Homo sapiens: one gene and its partners. The protein of the gene in region 3 purifies or fractionates together with the protein of the main gene of each other region. This does not show direct contact. Each region holds a gene or a part of one and is shown on either strand. Other genes may lie near its edges.

Region 1 (4,490 bases), on a different chromosome or scaffold from region 3:
CACTGGGCAAAGAAACATAGCCAAGGAATCCTTTTTCCCCTAATATCTGTATGTCTTTCAAGAGGATATTACTTCCTTCTCAGAGTAGAAGGGAGGAGGAGTAGACAGATTGTTGCTTAGAGTGAAGTTTACACGAAGTAAGACCAAAGTCCGGCTCCTGTATCATTGTTTTCCTTTGTCCTGCTCTGTTGGTTTATTTTTCTTGTAATGTTGCTTTCATATGATTGTTCTCCCTCCCTTTTTCCTTGCAATATAGATTCCTAAAGGAAAACCCAACTCTTCCTTTCCTAAAAACTCTACTTTGTAAGTCACGTTCATGGCACAGTGAATTCCGCTTTCAGTTTTGGTTCTTCACTAATCATGCCTGCGTATGATCGTCCTGTTGCTTACAGACTCTGCCTGTTCCACCTTCCAGGGCGCTGACCTAAGCCTTTTCCGGCCTGCTCCTCCTGCCTACTGTGGTTGGATGTGATGTATATGACAGTGACATTTTTATGCCAAAGTTACTTGGAACTTCTGGCACATCTCATGGTTGCTTACAAGCGAGTTGTGTTCTAGTGTTTGTGTTAATGATACTTTGGCAGTGATTTGCTGTTAGAGTGAATGTTCCTATCATGTTTCCTACGTTTGAATACGTTATTGTCCTTTGGAGAACAGTTGGGTGCCCATCAGTTCTTTCATCCCTAAGCAATTTTTTTTTGCCTTTGCATATTTTTTTTCTGTCTTATGAATTAAAGATCTTCATGTATTTTAAGTAGTTTTAAAATTTTATACATTTTTTTGAGACGGAGTTTTGCTCTTGTTGCCCCGCCTGGAGTGCAGTGGCGTTCAAAGCTCACTGCAGAAATAGAACTCCCCCACCTCAGCCCCCCAAGTAGCTGGGACTATAGACATGTGGCCCCATGCCCAGCGTATGTAGTTTTTTTTTTTTTTGAGACGGAGTCTCGATTGTCGCCCAGGCTGGAGTGCAGCGGCAGAATCTTGGCTCACTGAAAGCTCCGCCTCCTGGGTTCACGCCATTCTCCTGCCTCCCGAGTAGCTGGGACTACAGGCGCCTGCCACCATGCCTGGCTAATTTTTTTTTTTTTTTTTTGTATTTTTAGTAGAGACAGGGTTTCACTGTGTTAGCCAGGATGGTCTCGATCTCCTGACCTCATGATCCACCTCTCTTGGCCTCCCAAAGTGCTGGTATTACAGGCGTGAGCCACCATGCCTGGCTCCAGCATACATAGTTTTTTACTTTTAGTTTTATTTATTCTTTTTTTTTTTTTTTTGAGACGGAGTCTCACTCTGTTACCCAGGCTGGAGTGTAGTGGCATGTTCTTGGCTCGCTGCAACCTCCGTCTCCTGGGTTCAAGCAATTCTCATGCCTCAGCTTCCCAGGTAGCTGGGATTACAGGCATGTGCCACCACGCCAGGCTAATTTTTTGTATTATTTTTTCAGTAGAGATGGGGATTTACTGTGTTAGCCAGGATGGTCTTGATCTTCTGACCTCGTGATCCGCCCGCCTTTGCTTCCCAAAGTGCTGGGATTACAGGCGTGAGCCACCGTGCCCGGCGTTATGTTCATTTTTTGTAGAGACAGGGCTTCACTGTGTTGCTGAGGCTGTAAGTGGGTTTTGAAGTCACACAGCAATGTCAAGCGTTTCCGCCGCAGAAGAGATTTGAAAACTACTGAAACCTTGATGCTGTGACATTTGTCATTTTGAGATCATTTAGGCTGTTTCAAAGCTGTACTCAGTGTAAATGCTTCATGTGTGTAGGCAGCTAGTTTGGTGTTATTTGTCCATCCTAATTAAATAATTTAACAAGCATTATGAATGGATAGTCATTTGAACATTTATGATTCTTGGGTTGATTTTTCATTTATTTTGTTTCAAACTAGTTAACTGTGTAGTAATTGTAAGTGGTTTTTTTAAAAAAGTACAAGTGAATGTAACTTTTACCTGTTACATCATTTTTAAGGGAAAAGCCTGCATGCTTCTTTATTTTGGCTGACTTGTTTAATGCATACTAATAGGTAGATGACCCTCCAACCAATAGGTGGCTTTCTGTTGCATGTCATAGTGCAGTTGAAACTCCTTAGGGTAATCACCCTCTTTAAAGGCAAAAGACAAATAGCATGAGTGAAGTGGTCCAAATGCCATTCTTTAATAACCTCAGTGGTCTGATTTACTTTGAGCATGCTGTGTTTCACTCTGAAGTAAAATCTGATTATAGTTTGGTGTATCTGGCCAAGATACAAAAGCTGAAATATTTATAACAGCAGAACCCCACAATAAAATACGATAGAACTTCTTGGCAACAGTTTATTGCTCAGTTAACTATTTTGAAGCATTTCTGATAATTAGCTTGTGGGTAAATTAGATTTTGCAAAAAGTTTGCAAAATACTCTTGATTCTTGAAGAGGTGAGGTTATTGAGAAAGAGTATTTTGACCCAAGATTTATGTGAAAGCTTGAATGTCATTTTAGTAAGATGGTTTCCTTGGCTGTCTACGTCAAGAGCTTATTTAGCGTAAAAACATTGAGTTGTACTGCGCATCAGTTTTTTTCATTCTGTTGACCAATAAATACTTTCAGGACCATAATCCCTTCTTGGCTTAGGCATCTCAGGTGTCAAGGATGATAGAAGTCCTTTGCCTGCGTTTAATACCAATTGTAGCAAGTAGAAGAGTCTTTATGCTTGGAATGACACCTTTGTTTGTGGCTGCCATAGCCTAATGTAGTCAATACGAAATAATTGACTTTTTTTCTTTTTTAACAGGTGAAGAGCAGAATAAAGAAGCGCTGCAGGACGTGGAAGACGAAAATCAGTGAGACATAAGCCAACAAGAGAAACCATCTCTGACCACCCCCTCCTCCCCATCCCACCCTTTGGAAACTCCCCATTGTCACTGAGAACCACCAAATCTGACTTTTACATTTGGTCTCAGAATTTAGGTTCCTGCCCTGTTGGTTTTTTTTTTTTTTTTTTAAACAGTTTTCAAAAGTTCTTAAAGGCAAGAGTGAATTTCTGTGGATTTTACTGGTCCCAGCTTTTAGGTTCTTTAAGACACTAACAGGACTACATAGAGGCTTTTTCAGCATTACTGTGTCGTCTCCGTGCCAGATGTGGCAAGATCACCATTAGCAAATGGAAATTACATTTGAAAGCCATTAGACTTATAGGTGATGCAAGCATCTAAGAGAGAGGTTAATCACACTATAGAGGCATAAGTGGTATCAGTTTTCATTTTTCTAATTGTTTAAACTGTGTTTTATACCAGTGTTTGCAAGTAATTGGGTGTTAGCTTGAGATGGTTAAAGGTGGTTTGGGGAGGGACTTCGTTGTAATGGTTTTGCTGTAAAAAATGTTTCCAACTCCGCTGAAATGTTGCTGAAAAGCATGGTGCTGGTAACAGTTCAACAATCCGTGGCTGCTCATTCTTGCCTACTTTACTCTCCCACTGAAGCAGGTTAGCGTTGAAGGTGGTATGGAAAAGCCTGCATGCCTGTTCAATTCTTTTGTTTCTTCTCCTTCCCCCTCCCCCTACCTCCTTCCCCTCACTCCTCCCCTCCTTCGCTCGCTCAACCTCTTTTGTTCAGTATGTGTAACTTGAAGCTAATTTGTACTACTGGATATCTGACTGGAGCCACAGATACAGAATCTGTATTGTTCTTACTGAAACACAGCATGGAATTAACATTAAACTTAAATAAAACAAACCTAAATTAAAAATGCCAAATATCGCGCCTCCATCCTTTATACTTCTAAAATAAAATCTCTAGTCCAAACACACTGACAGTATTATGTTTGCCTGAATGTGAAACATTCCTCCTTTTTTCTTCCATAAATAATTTGTTTGCTTCCCAAAGATGTATGTTTTGGAAAAAAATTGCCTGTAGTCTGGTTGTGAAGAACACTGAGTCAGTTGATGGTGTGTCTTGTCCTCCAGACCAGGCAGCAACATGGTATTTATTTTAATCATTAAAGTACAACATGAGTAGTACAAGGTGTAATTATGGATCATTTTCTAGCATAGTATTTCATACAACCAAATAAGGCTGAATGTCTTATAATAATTCTTAGAGGTAAAAACTGTGTGCCCTCTTCCTCCAGAGGCTAGTGGCAGTAGTGGAGAATTACTCAATCCTTTCTTAGTAATCCATACACACATTATAGACAGCAGGATAGCAGTCTCCCTTTCCAGAAACACTGTATAAGAAGCTTCTTTCCATAAACAGTTTATACATCAATGTGTATAGATACCTAGTTACTGTAGATCTTTTTATGTTAGGCATTCAGATGTGTCTCATTCTGACTGCGTAACATTGATGTACACCTGATTTTGTTAAGACCAGTTTGCTCCTTTTGGGCAGGTGCTGCAGGAAATACCCTTGGAACAGTTTTTGCTTAAATATTTGTATGTATCTGGAAGGTACATTTCTAGATTCCCTGTGTCAGTAAACATTTTTCAGTTGATAAATCCTTCCTCGTCACACTTGTCTT
Region 2 (4,389 bases), on a different chromosome or scaffold from region 3:
ATTTTATTGTAACAGACATTGTTTTGCCAACATTGCCTATTTCAGTGGCACGTCATCTAGTTTTAAAAAAATAAAACATTTTAAATGGACAGAGAAAAATAACTGTCTTGTCTTTAACTCGTAAGTGGCTTACCTGGGACTAACAGACATGTCCAACTTTCTCTCCAGTTCTTAGCTCAGAACTTTAGTTGTACTCTGCTTGAGGGGAAGAAGGCTCCTGCTCTGCTGTGTAGGTAGTCATAGGAATTGTATTCTTAATGTACAGGCACTAATTGTCATCTGTGATGTACATTTTATGCAAGTTTCTGCTGGCCTGGTATAGAGAACATAAGGGCAAGTGTGTATGTGTGTGTATGTGTGTGTTTTGTAAAATCTGTAAATAGCACATGACCAAATGAACATATTGTATAGAACTATTTTTATTTGAATGTGGCACTAACCACCACCACCGTTACTACGATCAATGTTTGCGCATGTTCGAGATGAGTCTCACCAACAGTGTGTAAGTCATTAACAGTCCTAACTGTGGTGTTTTCCTCCAATGCCTTCCAACATCCATCAACTAACGTGAGTATTTTCTTCCTGGGATTTGGATGCTTTAGCCTAAAGGTGACTGCCACCAAGTGAGATAACTGTATGTCACTAACTTATAAGCCGCCTCCATGGCAGATGCTGCTGTGCTCCCTGATGCCCTGTGAGCACCGGGGTTGCCTGTGGCGCCTGCCATGTGACTCGGGCGCAGCATCAGCTGGCTGGAGGTGTGGCTTTCATAGACCTCCACAGGCTGCCTAGGACAAGATGACCAGGAGGGCCCAAGCCAGACAAAAGCCGGAGTGGGGAGAGAGGCATTTCAGCCAGACCAACAGGCTGAAGGAGCTGTGCAGACTATTGCTAAAATGAGGGTTCGCAGCTGCCAGGAGTCATCCCAGAACATTGCTACTTATTTATTAAAAAGCTAAAAACTAGTGAAAGCAAGTAACTGAACCAGTGAACTCTGGGTATCGATAGGTTCGTCTTAAATAGGCCACTTCCCCACTCCCCCACCCCCCCTTGCTTGGTCTTGTCCTTGGTGGCTAAGACTTAGCTCTGCAGGGGATGTTAAAGCACAGTTAGTAGGACGTGGCTCTGCACAGCCCAAAAACCAGCTTACTCCTTAGCCAGGGTGTGAGGCCTCGACTATATTCTTCAAAATGTACTTAGGCTCTGGTTACTGGGATGGCCAGTAGATGTAATGCAGATGGTTGGAGTTTGGGGAGGGTTAGGAGGCATCAAGCAGGACAAGGTGCTGCTGAGTTCAGAGGGCCCACGTTCAAGGGATGGAGGTGGAACCTGGAGACCGACTCTTAAAAGCACAGTCCGTGGTTGGGTGTGGTGGCTCATGCCTGTAAGTAAGTCTCAGCCCTTTGGAGGCCACAGCAGAAGGATTGCTTGAGCCCAGGTACTCAAACCAGCCTGGGCAACAGAGTGAGGCCCTGTCAAAAAAAAATCAGCCTTACTGTGAAGCCTCCAAGGCTGCTCGCAGGCAGCTGTGGCTCTCGGGAAGGGAGGCTGCTTTGCCCAGCAGGGAACATTTGGGGCAGGGGGTAAATTTTGCCAGTTTGAGCATCATGAGGTGTAACAAGAAATGGGTTGAATGGGCCAAATGCAAGGAGTGCATCTCTGGGCTGCAAACTGACTTGAGTGCTGCACTATTGCTATTCCGTGCAAACAAAACTCAGCTTTTCCTGACTCAGTTCCTTGACTTAGTGGCCTTTACAAAAAAAGTTGAGTAGTGTGTGGCCTGCTGTCGCACAGCCCCTAGTTAGCTTCATGGTTTCTCAGCTTCAGACCCCTCCAGCCCACAGAGGAGCCCATGGAGGGACCCACTTCCCTTGGTCCAGACAGCTGGGAGTGGGTTAGGCCCACTGCTGTTTTGAGCAGGGCCACTTGCTCCATTTCACTGAAGGCTTTGCTGGGTGAAAACACTTCAGCATCTCCTCCTCAGGTCAACCCATAAAGACCAGGTCCAGCACCGTGGTCTTGGCACATCCCTGGCCTCAGGCCCTCACCTAACAGTGAGGCAGCAGCTGCCCAGCCCCGCAATGTGCCTGCTGTCAGGCAGCTCTTGCCTGAAACTTACTTCCACATTCTTTCCTGATGGGCAGGTGGCTGAAGGCCCAGCCATCAGTGTCGCTTGTTGCCACCCCGTGCCTCCCTTGGCCTCTCTGAGCTTTGCCCAGAAGACCAACAATCATACATACCCTAACTGGGACACCACTCTGCAGAATGCAGATGATCCATTCTGGAGGAAGCTGTCCCTTGAGCTCAGTGAGCTCCCAGGCAAGCAGGGCATCTGGCCGACTTCCCTCACAACAGCTGCTCCCACATCCCCTCGGACTGGAGCTTCAGCCCTGACTGAGGTGGGCAGACCTAAGACCTGAGACCACAAGATTAGCTCAGTGTCTACCAAGCATCTAGCCACTGTCCAGGGCCAGAGCATACCACGTCTGCAGTGCCTGTGAGCAGAGCCAGCAGTTGCCCTGTGACTGTAACCACCAAATTGTCCAAACACCCGCTGCAGTTAGCAAGAAGGGTAGGCTTCACCCTCCTTTACTGAGGAGAATGATGCGGAGGAGTTTCCTCTCCAGGGCTAGGCAAGGCAGGCGAGCAGCCAGAAGCCGGGTGCCCACAGGGCAGGGACAGGAAGGCTGTGCTGCTACTGGCTGCTCACTTCTCCATCAACCTCACCCTCTGCACCACTAACCAAGACCTTGTCCTCTTGCCTGTCTCGCTGCTTTCACAGCTGCAACGATTGTGTCTGCCTCATGGGGTTTTCCTCCAGAGCCTTTATTCTGTAGCCAGACGACACGAGGAGTCTGTGTCACTGAGCCAGTGCTTCTAGATGCTACCCTGTGTGGGCGGCACCTCAGGGACAGTAAATCAGAAATGCTGGTCTTGAAACCTTGAAAAGATCAAGCTGAATGTTCCTTTTCATCTGTCGCTGTTGATCTTCATCTATTTAAATAGGTATTCTAACGTTTCCTCTCTGTATTTCATGAAGCTGATTTCCTCTCTCTTTCCTTTTCAGCAATACTGGAGTAACCGCTTCCTAAACCATTTTGCAGAAATGTAAGGGTGTTCGGTTGCGTGCATGTGCGTTTTTAGCAACACATCTACCAACCCTGTGCATGACTGATGTTGGGGAAAAAGAAAAGTAAAAAACTTCCCAACTCACTTTGTGTTATGTGGAGGAAATGTGTATTACCAATGGGGTTGTTAGCTTTTAAATCAAAATACTGATTACAGATGTACAATTTAGCTTAATCAGAAAGCCTCTCCAGAGAAGTTTGGTTTCTTTGCTGCAAGAGGAATGAGGCTCTGTAACCTTATCTAAGAACTTGGAAGCCGTCAGCCAAGTCGCCACATTTCTCTGCAAAATGTCATAGCTTATATAAATGTACAGTATTCAATTGTAATGCATGCCTTCGGTTGTAAGTAGCCAGATCCCTCTCCAGTGACATTGGAACATGCTACTTTTTAATTGGCCCTGTACAGTTTGCTTATTTATAAATTCATTAAAAACACTACAGGTGTTGAATGGTTAAAATGTAGGCCTCCAGTTCATTTTCAGTTATTTTCTGAGTGTGCAGACAGCTATTTCGCACTGTATTAAATGTAACTTATTTAATGAAATCAGAAGCAGTAGACAGATGTTGGTGCAATACAAATATTGTGATGCATTTATCTTAATAAAATGCTAAATGTCAATTTATCACTGCGCATGTTTGACTTTAGACTGTAAATAGAGATCAGTTTGTTTCTTTCTGTGCTGGTAACAATGAGCGTCGCACAGACATGGTTTCAGGTAAATAAATCTATTCTATGATAAATTCTCAGTGTGGTGGTGACTGTTCTGTGGGAGGGGGACTGATGGGCACCAAGGGCCTCCACTCCGCACCCGGGCCTGCCCCTCTACAGGGAAGCAGGGGAGGCTCAGTCTGGGCAGGGTGGCCATGTGACTAGAGGGGACAGGAACCTCTTGGACTCGACTTCACAGTAGACAGGCTGACTGGCAGCAGGTCCGCCCATGTGAAGCCCACCCTGGCTCCCTACCCTTTAAGGATGGGGGAAGCTGAGTGTGTGTTACCAGTGGGGTCTTAAACACACAAGGCCTCACTCGTCAGTGTGGTGAAGAAAGCCAAGACTCCGCGCTCTCCATTGTTAGCAGCCTGGAAAGATCTGGAGACTAGCAATGGAGAGATGTTTCTTAGGCTGTTCAGATCCAAAACTTCCACATTCCCCGTTGTTGATAGGTATGGGATGGAGAGGTGAACAGAACTGAAGCAGCTGTTGGAATTCATTTGCTGGTTACTTTAGTGCTTATTTGGCAGTGATGGGTTTGGGATTGGG
Region 3 (7,042 bases):
TCTCAGGACAGAAATTGGAAATAGAACGACTGGAAAAGAAAAACAAAACTTTAGAATATAAGGTTTGTTTTGACATTATTATGATAGATGTATGTGCTGGTGTTTTAGCACTGTTCTCTGAGGGAGATATTGTGCTCCAACGGCCTGTAAATGCTGCTTATTAAGAGTTCTCGGTTGAGTGCGGTGGCTCATGCAGGTAATTCCAACACTTTGGGAGGCTGAGGTGGCCAGATCATCTGAGGTCAGGAGTTCAAGAACGAGCCTGGCCAACATGGCAAAAGCCCATCTCTACTAAAAAAGTACAAAAGTTAGCTGGGCGTGGTGGCGAGTGCCTGTAATCCCAGCTACTCAGGAGGCTGAGGCAGGAGAATCGCTTGAACTGGGGAGGTGGAGGTTGCAGTGAGCCGAGATTGAGCCACTGCACTCCAGCCTGGGCGACAAGAGCAAGACTCTGTCTCAAAAAAAAAAAGAGTTCTCAGGCTGAGTGCGGGGGCTCATGCCTGTAGTCTCAGCACATTGGGAGGCCAAGGCAGGGAGATCACTTGAGCCCAGGAGTTCCAGACCAGACCGGGCAACGTGGCGAAACCCCATATCTACAAAAAAAATTAGCCAGGCATGGTGGTACATGTCTGTAGTCCCAGCTACTCGGAAGGCTGAGATGGGAGAACAGCTTGAGCCTGGGAGGTTGAGGCTGCAGTGAGCTGGGATTGCACGACTGCACTCCAGCCTAGGTGACAGAGCGAGAGCCTGTCTCAAAAAAAAAAAAAAAGTTCTCAATTGGTTGTTTACTAATCCTCATCCCATGCTAAGGAGGAAATGTGAGTGAAATGAAGAATCATATGTTCTTTAATTTTATGAGAGTTTTAACAGTTGAAAAGGATGTTCTCTGACCCAAACAAGGGAGCTTTCTAGAGCTTAGCTTTGGTTGTAGCTTGCTTTTGAATTTATTAGAAATATTTCCTTAGTATGCTTTTTTTTTTTAATGAGATAAATGATTAAATGAAATGGTATAAAAGTGCCAGCATCGGGCCTTGGACGTAACAGATACTCAGTAAAGCTTAATTGGATCTGTATTTGGTTTACAAATCGATTGTAAAAGTATAAACTCAGGATTAATCTCTTACAATGGGGTAGAAGGAAATACCGTTTTGTTGGGAAGCATTGCAGCACTGTGTAATGTATGTCTGTTCTCTCATTTACAGAGGGTCATTTAGAGGTTTGGTGGGGGTACACATTCATAAGAGAAGTTAGTCTCAACCAATATAGTTTTTTTAAATTCTGAAAATAGCCTAAAAACTAAATTTTAGCCCTTAATTTTAGGAGAAAGTAATTTTCACATGAAGTTAGTTGTAAATGTCTTTGGGTGAGGAGCTTGTTTAACATGTTTTCATTTCTGAGAATGGGGGTGGGAATTCAGATGAAATGTTAGAGAAAAAAGTGCTTTCTCCATGATGTTTCTTTCCACAAATATGCTTGCATAAGCAAATTAAGGAAGACTATTTTATAGCGACATGAAATGTTTATATACCAAATATTGAACATAGTGGTCTACCTTCCTAGATTGAGATTTTAGAGAAAACAACTACTATCTATGAGGAAGATAAACGCAATTTGCAACAGGAACTTGAAACTCAGAACCAGAAACTTCAGCGACAGTTTTCTGACAAACGCAGATTAGAAGCCAGGTTGCAAGGCATGGTGACAGAAACGACAATGAAGTGGGAGAAAGAATGTGTGAGTATCGTTTGGGTAGTGCTTGTCTCAGAGTCGGATGATTTATTTTACATTGTAGTTAGGTTCGATATTTTGAATTATTGTATTTGCGGTAGGGTTTTGGTGGTGGTTGTTAACTCTCAGGAAGAATTGGAGAACTGTCATTTTTAGGAAATAAAGAGATTGGGTAATCTGGTGTACTCGTTTGCTGTGATGGAATGATAATATACATTGCCACTGATAATCTGTAGGAGCGTAGAGTGGCAGCCAAACAGCTGGAGATGCAGAATAAACTCTGGGTTAAAGATGAAAAGCTGAAACAACTGAAGGCTATTGTTACCGAACCTAAAACTGAGAAGCCAGAGAGACCCTCTCGGGAGCGAGATCGAGAAAAAGTTACTCAAAGATCTGTTTCTCCATCACCTGTGCCTGTAAGTTATTTGTAATTGTGTAGTAACTTTGTACTAGAGAAATTTTGTTCAGATTAGATGACTATTTCTATGAGGATTTTTACATTTTATAATACTTACATTTCTGAAATTTCTCTAAAAATATTTTAAAATTTAGAATAAACACAAATTTAGCACAAAAAAATAGAACAAATAATTATTTGTAATGTTAAGTCTTCATGTGCTAACATTATAGAAAAGTAATGAATTGTTTCTCTCAGTTTTTCAGTCTTGCTCATTAATTTTTCTCCAATTTTTCTAGCTTTCTAGTAACTATATTGCTCAGATTTCCAACGGCCAGCAACTCATGAGCCAGCCACAGCTACATAGGCGCTCTAACTCTTGCAGCAGCATTTCTGTAGCTTCCTGTATTTCGGAATGGGAGCAGAAAATTCCTACGTACAACACACCTCTCAAAGTCACATCTATTGCAAGGCGTAGGCAGCAGGAGCCAGGACAAAGCAAAACTTGTATCGTGTCAGACAGAAGGCGAGGGATGTACTGGACTGAAGGCAGGGAGGTGGTTCCTACATTCAGAAATGAGATAGAAATAGAAGAGGATCATTGCGGCAGGGTTAGTGCCAGTATTATTTTAACGCATTGTAGCAATAGATTTTATCTTCTTTGTTTTTTGTAACTTGTGTCTGAAAGTTCATTGGAAAAATGGTTGGGCTATAGTATAAAGAAGGTCTAATTTCTCAGTTAATTTGAAAGATTGACTTACGGAAATTGAGGCCTGGCTCCTCATCTGAAAAAGCCTAAACACATCTGGCAGCGGAAGTGTGTTCAGTGAACACAGGTCAGTTTGGTGCATCCCAGAGTAGTCTGAGCTTTTCAGCTGCATACGCTAATAAGCTTTGCACAGAATTGGTGAATGTGTCTTAAAGCATACTTTCCATATTTTTCTTTTGGTTCCCCTTCCCCAAATTAGATTTTTTATACCTCCTTTCATGCCCTAGTTTTAAAAATTGTTTTCCCAAATTTTTATTTTGAAAAATTTCAGACCCAAAGCAAAGTAGAAAGAATAGTATGGTAATGTCTTTCCCTCCTTGCCTAAGTTTACCAATTGTTACTTGATATAGATATGTAAACCTTTTTCCCCTAAGCCTTGTGAAAGGAAATCACAGACTTAGAGACACTTAATCTCTAAGAATAAGGACATTGTACTACCTAGCCACAATCTTTATCACATCCAAGAAAATCAACATTAATTAATTATCCTCTATTGAGACATTGTGCAGTTGTCCCAAAATTGGATTGGCTTTTCTTTTTTTTTTTTTAAAGACAGAGTCTCACTCTGTCACCCAGGATGGAGTGCAGTGGCATGATTATGGCTCACTGCAGCCTCAGTCTTCCTGAGCTGAAGTGATCCTCTCACCTCAGCCTCCCAAGTAGCTGAGATTACGGGCAGGCCACCATGCTAATTTTTTATTTTCAGTAGAGACAAGGTCTCACCATGTTGCCCAGGCTGGTATTGAACTCTTGAACTCCAGCAATCCTCCTGCCTTGGCCTCCAAAGGTGCTGAGATTACAGGCAAGCCACTGCACCAGCCAGCTTTTTTTTCAATCCATGATACTATGAAAGTGTATGCATTGCATATCATGATTATGTCTTTCATCTCTTTTAATATAAAATAGTCTCACCCTGTCCCCCTACTTTTTTTATTTTTATGACATTGACTATTTTCATTGAAGAGTTTAGGCCAGTTATTTTAAAATTACTGATTTCCATGCCCAATAAATTGCTTTTAATCTTGAGGCATTTATCTCAATTTACATTTGCCTCATTCAAGGGTATTTAAATAAATTCACTTTCATATTTTTCTTCTTAAAGATTAAGGTAAAGTTTCTTTTGAATCTGAATAAATGGACCAAGTTAATGTTTGCGAATTTTATATTTAGTAAAATCTTCACAAAGCTCTCTTAGAATATTTCTTCTAAATCTTACAGTAAACATTTACTTTAGATTTTCTTATATAAGTCAGGGTATAGATGAATGTTCATTTATGTGGCCTGAATTCCTGATTATTAAGGGATGGTGATGAATCCCAAGTTATTTACCAGGGAAACAGATGATTCTAAAGTCTCTTAAGTTCTTTACTTTGCAGATTTTTCCTTAAACATTTTTAGACAGCAAATTAGGTAAATGGTCATTCTGACCAACTCTAGTCAGTCATTTTATGAAAGTTTATAGGCTGAAAACTATTCAAGGCTTGCGTATGCCTTGCAAACCGTAATGAGATATCTAATTTGGCTATGAGATATTTAAGGGAATTTACTAGAGATTCTTACGTGAAATCAAAATCTCTTTAGAAGTGCAGCAGAAAAGTTACTGTAAGGTTAGTATCTGTGCATCTAAGTTTGTTGGTCAAAAATTATGTCAGGTGGACTGAATTTATACTTCAGTGAGGAAAAAATTTAAATATTTGTTTCATAAATGCTAGTAGATTGTATGGATTATCATCTTTCTGAAGTGTGTTTCATCATATGCTTATTGTTAAATGTTTGAAGAAAACCTTTGTTTTTGCTAAATGGTAGATGATAAGGACCAGACTTTCTTTCGTGTTCAACATTAAATAAATCATTGTAGGAATGGAAAGTTCCTGTTTGTCTTGAGGCTCAGCATCTTTAGTGGCAAACTGTATTGCCCATGTCTTAGAGCTGTCACTAGTGCTGCATTTGTTTCTTGTTAACTATATAGCGAAAATGATTCAGTTCCTCAGATGTGCATTTTGAAATTGAGGTCTTCATACTTGACTAGCTTTGACAGATTTGGCCTGTGATAGACTTTTTCCATTTGCTTTCAGTTTTGTTTTTTGGGTTTTTTTTTTTTTTTTTTTTTTTTTTTTTTGAGATGAGGTCTTGATCTGTTGCCCAGGCTGGAGTGCAGTGGTGTCATCTAGGCTCACTGCAGCCTTGACCTTCCAGGCTCAAGTGATCGTTCTACCTCAGCCTCCTGAGTAGCTGGGACCACAGGCATGTGCTATCGCACCTGGCTAATTTTTAAATTTTTTGTAAAGATGGGGTCTTCTTACATTGCCTAAGCTGGTCTCGGGTGATCCTTCTCCCACCTCAGCCTCACAAATGTTGGGATAACAGGTATGAGCCACTGCACCCAGCCCTGCTTTCAGTTTTACAAACAGGAGATGTTCATAAAATTCTAAAGATAATTCATTGCTTCAAACTATAACTATGGCATATATGTGACATATTATTTTCTTAGGCTGAATGTGCTTAATTTAGCATTCCCAGGTTTACATGACATTTGACTGGAAGCAACTTGTTTGTTTTTGAGGCAGGGTCTCATTCTATTGCCCAGGCTGGAGTGCAGTGGTGCGATCTTGGCTCACTGCAATTTCCACCTCCTGGGCTCAAGCAATCCTCCCACCTCAACCTCCTGAGTAGCTGGGACTACAGGCACGTGTCACCAAGCCCAGCTAATATATATATATATATTTTTGTTTGTTTTGTTTTGTTTTGTTTTTGTTGAGTCTGGGTTTCACCATGTTGCCTAGGCTGAACTTGAACTTCTGAGTTCAAGTGATTCCTCCACCTCGGCCTTCCAAAGTGCTGATTACAGGCATGTACCACCATGCCTGGCCTAGCAACTAGTCTTTTATTGTGTGATAGAGACTGATTTGACACTGTATTATTTATTTGTTTCTTGGAACCTGTATGAAATGTTTGGGGGAAAAATTAGTTGGTATATTGTAGCCATTACTGTATTTGAACTTTTCATGAAGTTCTATTATGAGATTTTAAAATCTTAACTGAAAGCACTCAGAAGTATTTCACATTTCTTTAATCATTTTATTCATATGGTTCTTATTATACCTATGTTCTTAGGATTGTTTTCTGTTTTGTTTAGAAGCCTAGAAAATGTGTAGGGCTTTCATTGATCTTATTGAAGATTTTAACAGAGTTGTGGACATAATAGATTACCTCTCAATAGCAGGGATAAATATTGGTTTTTGATCAAGAATATGAAATGAGTTGTTTGTCCTGAACCACCCCCAAGCAGGAAAGACTTGCAGCATTACCAGAATTTTTTCTTTTATCCTTTATTGAAAGGGAAACTCCCAGATAGAATGTGTAACATACAAGTTGGTGTTAAAGATGTTTGTTGGTTTTGTGTTTAAATGCAAAGATCATGTTTAAATTACTTGAATAAAATATTTAGCTTTGGAAAGGTTTGCTATGATACTGTCATCAACTAATGTAGCCAAACCTGCTGCACTTCTAATAATACCCTTAAATTAATTCTGGGTTATGCTTGTTTCTCAGTTACTCTTTCAACCTGATCAGAACGCACCACCAATTCGTCTCCGACACAGACGATCACGCTCTGCAGGAGACAGATGGGTAGATCATAAGCCCGCCTCTAACATGCAAACTGAAACAGTCATGCAGCCACATGTCCCTCATGCCATCACAGTATCTGTTGCAAATGAAAAGGCACTAGCTAAGTGTGAGAAGTACATGCTGACCCACCAGGAACTAGCCTCCGATGGGGAGATTGAAACTAAACTAATTAAGGTAAAAAACTAATTTTCACAGGAGAAAAAAATATATTTAAAAATTCAACAAAAGTCCATTTGTCCTGCTACTCCTTTGGTGACACACAGGTAGTGTCAACTGGAACATCAGTAGGTATTTGATATAACCTTTTTGTTAGCAGAAAATTAGTCACTGCTTAGGTTTTAAGTCTGCCAAACTGGGACTAAGTATGCTTTAAATAGGTATAGATTCTTCGGTTTCTTAGAATTCTAGATCCATGATGTACTTTAATTTTTTAATGACTGTATATTTAGTTTTAACCACTACTTAAAGTAATCTAAGCAAAGAATTCCTATTGCTCTCCATCAGTTCAAGATAAAAAA
Region 4 (7,042 bases), on a different chromosome or scaffold from region 3:
TTCTTTCACAGTCTGTAATGTTATGACTTAATGTTACCAAGCTTCTCTCTCTCCATGCCCAAGCATATCCCAACAACCTTTTTTAAGGAAGAGAGGAAGACTCAGATCCTTAATCAGCATTTAATGCTGAAATAAATTATGTCTGGTTTTTATATTAAAAATTACTAAATATACCTTCAGTTCCATCTTCAGCATTTTCTTGCAGGTCAGAGAAGATTGTAGGTTTCACCAAGACAACACCATAACCTTCATTATTATGTATTATATTATTCACCATGGATATCTTGGGAATGTCATAATGTTCATCTAAGAAGTCCTGTGACATTGAAAACAAATGTTTTAGGAACTGTCATATTCAACATTTCCTGCCTTAAAAATCTTCTTTATTCACACTATTCTAAAAATAAAAGGAAAAAGCTATGTTTAGTCCCATGTTGTAGCACAGTCTGCACCCTTAGTGACACAGCTTTCCTCTGTCATTTCTGCAGATCTATAGGTAACAGCATTCTCACAAGAGATTCCAATCACTGATATTATCAAAATGTGTACACTGTTTATGCTTTTCAAAACCAGAAAATAGAACCCAACAATTTAATAAAGCATAATTTGTAGGTAAAACCATTCTATCCATTGAAAAGTGGGTGTTTTGGCTGATGCTCACCTTAATGAGGATCCCTTCCTTGCAGTGATGGATCCCATTGTCACTCAGGGTGCACTGACTCCCAGGGTAGATTTCTATACCAGCACCCTGTGAGTCACAGTTTGAGATAATGACAATCAGTTTTTAAAAGGCAAGACTATAAGAGTTTATTACAATTACTTCTTAGCCTTTAACACAGTACAAATGTACAGCACAAAGATAAAGTACTTTACAGATAAGTTTTACCAGCCATTTTTAATCAACATTTCCATTTGTTCCATTTCTAGCAAGTTGTTGACAATTTATCATTTTCAAAACCACACACACACACACACACACACACACACACGCTAAGAGTGCCAACACTTGATTCTTGCTCTACTCTCTTTCATTCTAGATAAATGTTTTCTGATTCTGCCAAGAAAAAAAAAAAGTCATTTAACAATTTTGTTGAAAGACACACTTATTCAAAATGACCATTCTCTCAGATACTCAATTAGTTGGAGATAAGTATTTGAATTTAGTAAAATATTGTAATTTGAGGATAGAAACAAGACCCCACATTTTCCAAAACGTGTCAGTTTTAAAATACCCCAACCCAACTTAAAAATCATTTCTATGAGTCCAACAATGGCTTTCCCTACCACACACGTTAACATCAGCAGCCAGTTCAAGTGTCATTCAAACAGAGTAACCAGAAAGATCAAACATGACACTATTCTCTCATACCTTATGGCACCAAAAAACATAAAAATAGTAAGAATTTCTTTCCTAATGCTATGCAAGGCACTCTGGAAAACAAAAATGATTCACTCAAACCTCTATAGTTATTTCAGCAACCATTTGGGAATAATTTAATGCACAACAGCATCGATGAAGAAGAGTTGCTGTAACCATTGATGACACATCTAATGCATGTATGTTCAGTTAATTTTCTAGTAGCAGTAGTATTCCATGAGAAAACATTTATTATTACTTAACCCTGTACATATGCCTGAACCATATGTATACACCAATCTAACTCTTTTGTAGAGAGGATTTTAAAAATGTGCTAATTGTGTCTTCTAAGAGATTTTCAGTTTGGGGTTATGTGCAAAAAAAGATTTTGGGGCGACTATGTTTAAAAATATCTATAGCAAGATGGTTAAAATTAAATATCAAACTGTCAGGAATCACATAAAATTTGTAAAGGAGAACAATTTAAACCAGCAGTCATGTAGCAAGTGAAAGTCATATTCAAAATATGTTATGAAAAGGAACAGATAATTTGGCAATTAAAAAGTAACTGAGGAGCCTGCCACTTCTGGGATGATGGAGTAGATGTCCCTATTCCTCCTGCTAGGTACGACCAAAAACCATGGGCATTATATATAAAACAAGCATAAGACTGAAAAATGGAGAGAAGAAGGCAGACCAGCTAGGGACCTCAGGACCCAAGAAACAACACCAACACAGTGGTAAGTTCCTTTCTTTTTGCTTCATAATCCCTAGACTTGGAGCTGAAGAAGCCAGCAATCCAGTACACCAACAGACATACACCCAAAAAAAAGCTGCTCTAACGAAAGGACTAGGCAACCTAGAAAGAGGAAAACTTTTAGATAATAATAGCTCTATTCCAGGTAAACACCACAGAGCCAGGACTTTCATCCCCACCAACCACAGTTGCAAGGCCCTCCCTGCAGCAGTGTCAGTGAAAACTATATGAGGAGCCTGGACTTGTACCCCCACCTGGCAGTGCCAAGACAACCACTCCCTCCCTACTGGGGCAGTGTCAGAGCAGGCCTAGTGGAGATTCCAGACTTTCACCATTGCCCACTGGTAACAAGACCACTCCCATATATCACAGTGCCAGTGGAGACCATGTAGGAAGCTAGACCTCCCACCCCTACATAGCAGTAAGAAGGAGCTCCCCCACCCAACTTGGGTATCAATGAACGCCAAGTGGGAACCATGACTTCTACCTCCACCAGTAACAAGATGATACCCATCTACCGCCAACCCTGTCCCTTCTTGTAGTAGTATCAGAGAAGCCAAGTTAAAACAGAAGATCCAGATTCTCACAACATAATATAAAAATATCCAACTTTCATTTGAAAATCCCTTGTCATACCAAGAATCAGGAAAATGTCAAAATGAATAAGACAATTAACAGATGCCAAAACCAAGATGTCAGAGATGATAGAATTAACTGACAGTGATTTTAAAGCAGCCATGATAAAAATGCTTCAATAAGCAATTATGAACACACATAAAACCAATGAAAAATGAAGTCTCAGCAAAGAAGTAGATGATATAAAGAACCAAATGGAAATTTTAGAATTGAAAAATACAATAACTGAAATAGAAAGCTCAATGGATGTGCTCAACAGCAGAATGAAAACAACAGAGGAAAGAATCAGTGAACTGGAAGACAGAACAGTAAAATTTACCCAATAGCAGAGAAAACAGTGAAAAAGAAAAGTAAACAGAGCTCCAGGGGTCTGCTGGAATATAACAAAAGATCCAATATTCATGTCATCAGAGTCCTGGAAAGAAAGAGGGTGAGGCTAAAAACATACTTCAAGAAATAGTGACTAAAAGCTCCCAAATTTGGCAGGATTTGGATAATAAGCCTACAGGTTCAAGAAGCTGAGCAGACACCAAACAGGATAAACTCAAAGAAATCCACGCCAACATACATCATAATTAAACTAGTGTAAGCTTAAAACAAAAATCTTGAAAGCATCAATTAAAATTTTATGCCTTACCTATAGGAGAGAAAATGTGATTGACAGCATCAGAAACCATGGACGTCAGATGAAAGACACACAGTATTGTTCAAGGGCTAAAAGAAAAAAAATTGTCAACCCAGAATCCTATAACCAGTGAAAATATTCTTCAGGAATGAGGAGGAAATCAAGATATTCTAAGAAGAAGGAAAAATAGGAAAATTTGTCACCAGCAGACGTATCTTCATAGAATGACTAAAGGAAGTTATCTAAACAAAAAAGAAATGATAAAAGAGAAGATCCTGGAACATCAAAAAGAAAAAAAAAGAACACAGTAAGCAAAGATATAGGTAAATACAATAAGCTTTCCTTCTCTTGAGTGTTCTAAATTATGTTTGACATTTGAAACAAAAATCATAAAATTCTCTAATATGGTTCTAGATGTACGTACATAAGGCAAATGTTTAAGACAATTATAAAAAGGAGATGGTAGAGAATAATAAAAGGAGGCAAGGTTTCTATACTTTACTTGAACTGGTGACACCAGTAAACTGTTATGTACATATAATATACAACCTAGGGCGACCACTAAAAAAGTTATATGAAGAGATATTCTCAAAAACAAATGAAATTCTGAAAAATGTTCAGCTATCCACAGGATGGCAGAAAAAAAGCAAATCAAGAAATGAAAAGCATAACAAACAGAAAACACGAAATAAACTAAAGATTTAATATCAATAATTAAATGTAAGTGGTCTAAATACAATTAAAAGACAAAGATTGCCAAAGTGGATTAAAAACATGACTCAACTATATGCTGTCTACAACTCACTTCAAACAGAATATAGGCAAGTTGAAATTAAAACAATAGAAAAAGACTATTCAACAAGAGCTAACTATCCTAAATATATATGGGTGCATATAACTATCCTAAATATATATGCACCCAATACAGGAGCACCGGATTCATAAAGCATGCCCTTAGAGACCTACAAAGAGACTTAGACTCCCACACAATAATAATGGGAGACTTTAACACCCCACTGTCAACATTAGACAGATCAACAAGACAGAAAGTTAACAAGGATACCCAGGAATTGAACTCAGCTCTGCACCAAGCGGACCTAATAGACATCTACAGAACTCTCCACCCCAAATCAACAAAATATACATTCTTCACAGCACCACATCACACTTATTCCAAAATTGACCACATAGTTGGAAGTAAAGCACTCCTCAGCAAATATAAAAGAACAGAAATTATAACAAACTGTCTCTCAGACCACAGTGCAATCAAACTAGAACTGAGGATTAAGAAACTCACTCAAAACAAAACTGCTCCACTACATGGACACTGAACAACCTGCTCCTGAATGACAACTGGGTACATAACGAAATGAAGGCACAAACAAAGATGTTCTTTGAAACCAACGAGAACAAAGACACAACATACCAGAATCTCTGGGACACATTTAAAGCAGTGTGTAGAAGGAAATTTATAGCACTAAATGCCCACAAGAGAAAGCAGGAAAGATCTAAAATTGACACCCTAACATCACAATTAAAAGAACTAGAGAAGCAAGAGAAAGCACATTCCAAAGCTAGCAGAAGGCAAGAAATCACTAAGATCAGAGAAGAACTGAAGGAAATAGAGACACAAAAAACCCTTCAAAAAATCAATGAATCCAGGAGTTGGTTTTCTGAAAAGATTAACAAAATTGACAGACCACTAGCAAGACTAATAAAGAAGAAAAAAGAGAGAAGAATCAAATAGATGCAATAAAAACTAATAAAGGGGATATCACCACCAATCCCACAGAAATACAAACTACCATCAGAGAACACTATAAACACCTCTATGCAAATAAACTAGAAAATCTAGAAGAAATGGATAAATTCCTCAACACATACACCCTCCCAAGACTAAACCAGGAAGAAGTTGAATCTCTGAATAGACCAGTAACAGGTTCGGAAATTGAGGCAATATTTAATAGCCTACCAATCAAAAAAAGTCTAGGACCAGACGGATTCACAGCCGAATTCTACCAGAGGTACAAAGAGGAGCTGGTACCATTCCTTCTGAAACTATTCCAATCAATAGAAAAAGAGGGAATCCTCCCTAACTCATTTTATGAGGCCAGCATCATCCTGATACCAAAGCCTGGCAGAGACACAACAAAAAAAGAGAATTTAGACCAATATGCCTGATGAACATCGATGCAAAAATCCTCAATAAAATACTGGCAAACCGAATCCAGCAGCACATCAAAAAGCTTATCCACCATGATCAAGTTGGCTTCATCCCTGGGATGCAAGGCTGGTTCAACATATGCAAATCAATAAACGTAATCCATCATATAAACAGAACCAAAGACAAAAACCACATGATTATCTCAATAGATGCAGAAAAGGCCTTCAACAAAATTCAACAGCGTCTCATGCTAAAAACTCTCAATAAACTAGGTATTGATGGGATGTATCTCAAAATAATAAGAGCTGTTTATGACAAACCCACAGCCAATATCATAATCAATGGGCAAAAACTGGAAGCATTCCCTTTGAAAACTGTCACACAAGACAGGGATGCCCTCTCTCACCACTCCTATTCAACATAGTGTTGGAAGTTCTGGCCAGGGCAATCAGGCAGGAGAAAGAAATAAAGGGTATTGAATTAGGAAAAGAGGAAGTCAAATTGTCCCTGTTTGCAGATGACATGATTGCATATCTAGAAAACCCCATCGTCTCAGCCCAATATCTCCTTAAGCTGATAAGCAACTTCAGCAAAGTCTCAGGATACAAAATCAATGTGCAAAAATCACAAGCATTCCTATACACCAATAACAGATAAACAGAGAGTCAAATCATAAGTGAACTCCCATTCAAAATTGCTTCAAAGAGAATAAAATACTTAGGAATCCAACTTATAAGGGATGTGAAGGACCTCTTCAAGGAGAACTACAAACCACTGCTCAATGAAATAAAAGAGGACACAAATGGAAGAACATTCCATGCTCATGGATAGGAAGAATCAATATCATGAAAATGGCCATACTGCCCAAGGTAATTTATAGATTCAATGCCATCCCCATCAAGCTACCAAGGACTTTCTTCACAGAATTGGAAAAACTACTTTAAAGTTCATATGGAACCAAAAAAGAGCCCACATCGCCAAGACAATCCTAAGCCAAAAGAACAAAGCTGGAGGCATCACGCTACCTGACTTCAAACTATACTACAAGACTACAGTAACCAAAACAGCATGGTACTGGTACCAAAACAGAGATATAGACCAATGGAACAGAACAGAGCCCTCAGAAATAATACCACACATCTACAACCATCTGATCTTTGACAAACCTGACAAAAACAAGAAATGGGGAAAGGATTCCCTATTTAATAAATGGTGCTGGGAAAACTGGCTAGTCATATGTAGAAAGCTGAAACTGGATCCCTTCCTTACACCTTACAAAAATTAATTCAAGATGGATTAAAGACTTAAATGTTAGACCTAAAACCATTAAAACCCTAGAAGAAAATCTAGGCAATACCATTCAGGACATACGCATGGCAGGACTTCATGACTAAAACACCAAAAGCAATGGCAACAAAAGCCAAAATTGACAAATGGGATCTAGTTAAACTAAAGAGCTTCTGCACAGCAGAACAAACTACCATCAGAGTGAACAGGCAACCT

The links.
Region 1: the proteins of KIF23 (region 3) and YWHAE purify together in Homo sapiens (affinity purification with mass spectrometry; 4 studies listed by BioGRID and IntAct, with this or other methods). This does not show direct contact.
Region 2: the proteins of KIF23 (region 3) and ATP2A2 purify together in Homo sapiens (affinity purification with mass spectrometry; 2 studies listed by BioGRID and IntAct, with this or other methods). This does not show direct contact.
Region 4: the proteins of KIF23 (region 3) and SHCBP1 purify together in Homo sapiens (affinity purification with western blotting; 9 studies listed by BioGRID and IntAct, with this or other methods). This does not show direct contact.

What each region holds. Positions count from the first base shown.
Region 1 is NC_000017.11:1,343,775-1,348,264, reverse strand, and holds the end of YWHAE (14-3-3 protein epsilon), read left to right. Parts: intron 1-2,765; coding exon 2,766-2,818; 3' UTR 2,819-3,990; downstream 3,991-4,490. UniProt on the Homo sapiens protein: Adapter protein implicated in the regulation of a large spectrum of both general and specialized signaling pathways. Binds to a large number of partners, usually by recognition of a phosphoserine or phosphothreonine motif.
Region 2 is NC_000012.12:110,347,225-110,351,613, forward strand, and holds the end of ATP2A2 (sarcoplasmic/endoplasmic reticulum calcium ATPase 2), read left to right. Parts: 3' UTR 1-168; coding exon of another isoform or gene 169-188; 3' UTR 189-3,067; coding exon of another isoform or gene 3,068-3,081; 3' UTR 3,082-3,869; downstream 3,870-4,389.
Region 3 is NC_000015.10:69,438,344-69,445,385, forward strand, and holds part of KIF23 (kinesin-like protein KIF23), read left to right. Parts: coding exon 1-62; intron 63-1,560; coding exon 1,561-1,734; intron 1,735-1,964; coding exon 1,965-2,144; intron 2,145-2,424; coding exon 2,425-2,736; intron 2,737-6,446; coding exon 6,447-6,698; intron 6,699-7,042.
Region 4 is NC_000016.10:46,583,342-46,590,383, forward strand, and holds part of SHCBP1 (SHC SH2 domain-binding protein 1), read right to left. Parts: intron 3,465-7,042; coding exon of another isoform or gene 3,417-3,464; exon of another isoform or gene 3,388-3,416; intron 749-3,387; coding exon 662-748; exon of another isoform or gene 661-661; intron 317-660; coding exon 175-316; intron 1-174. UniProt on the Homo sapiens protein: May play a role in signaling pathways governing cellular proliferation, cell growth and differentiation. May be a component of a novel signaling pathway downstream of Shc. Acts as a positive regulator of FGF signaling in neural progenitor cells.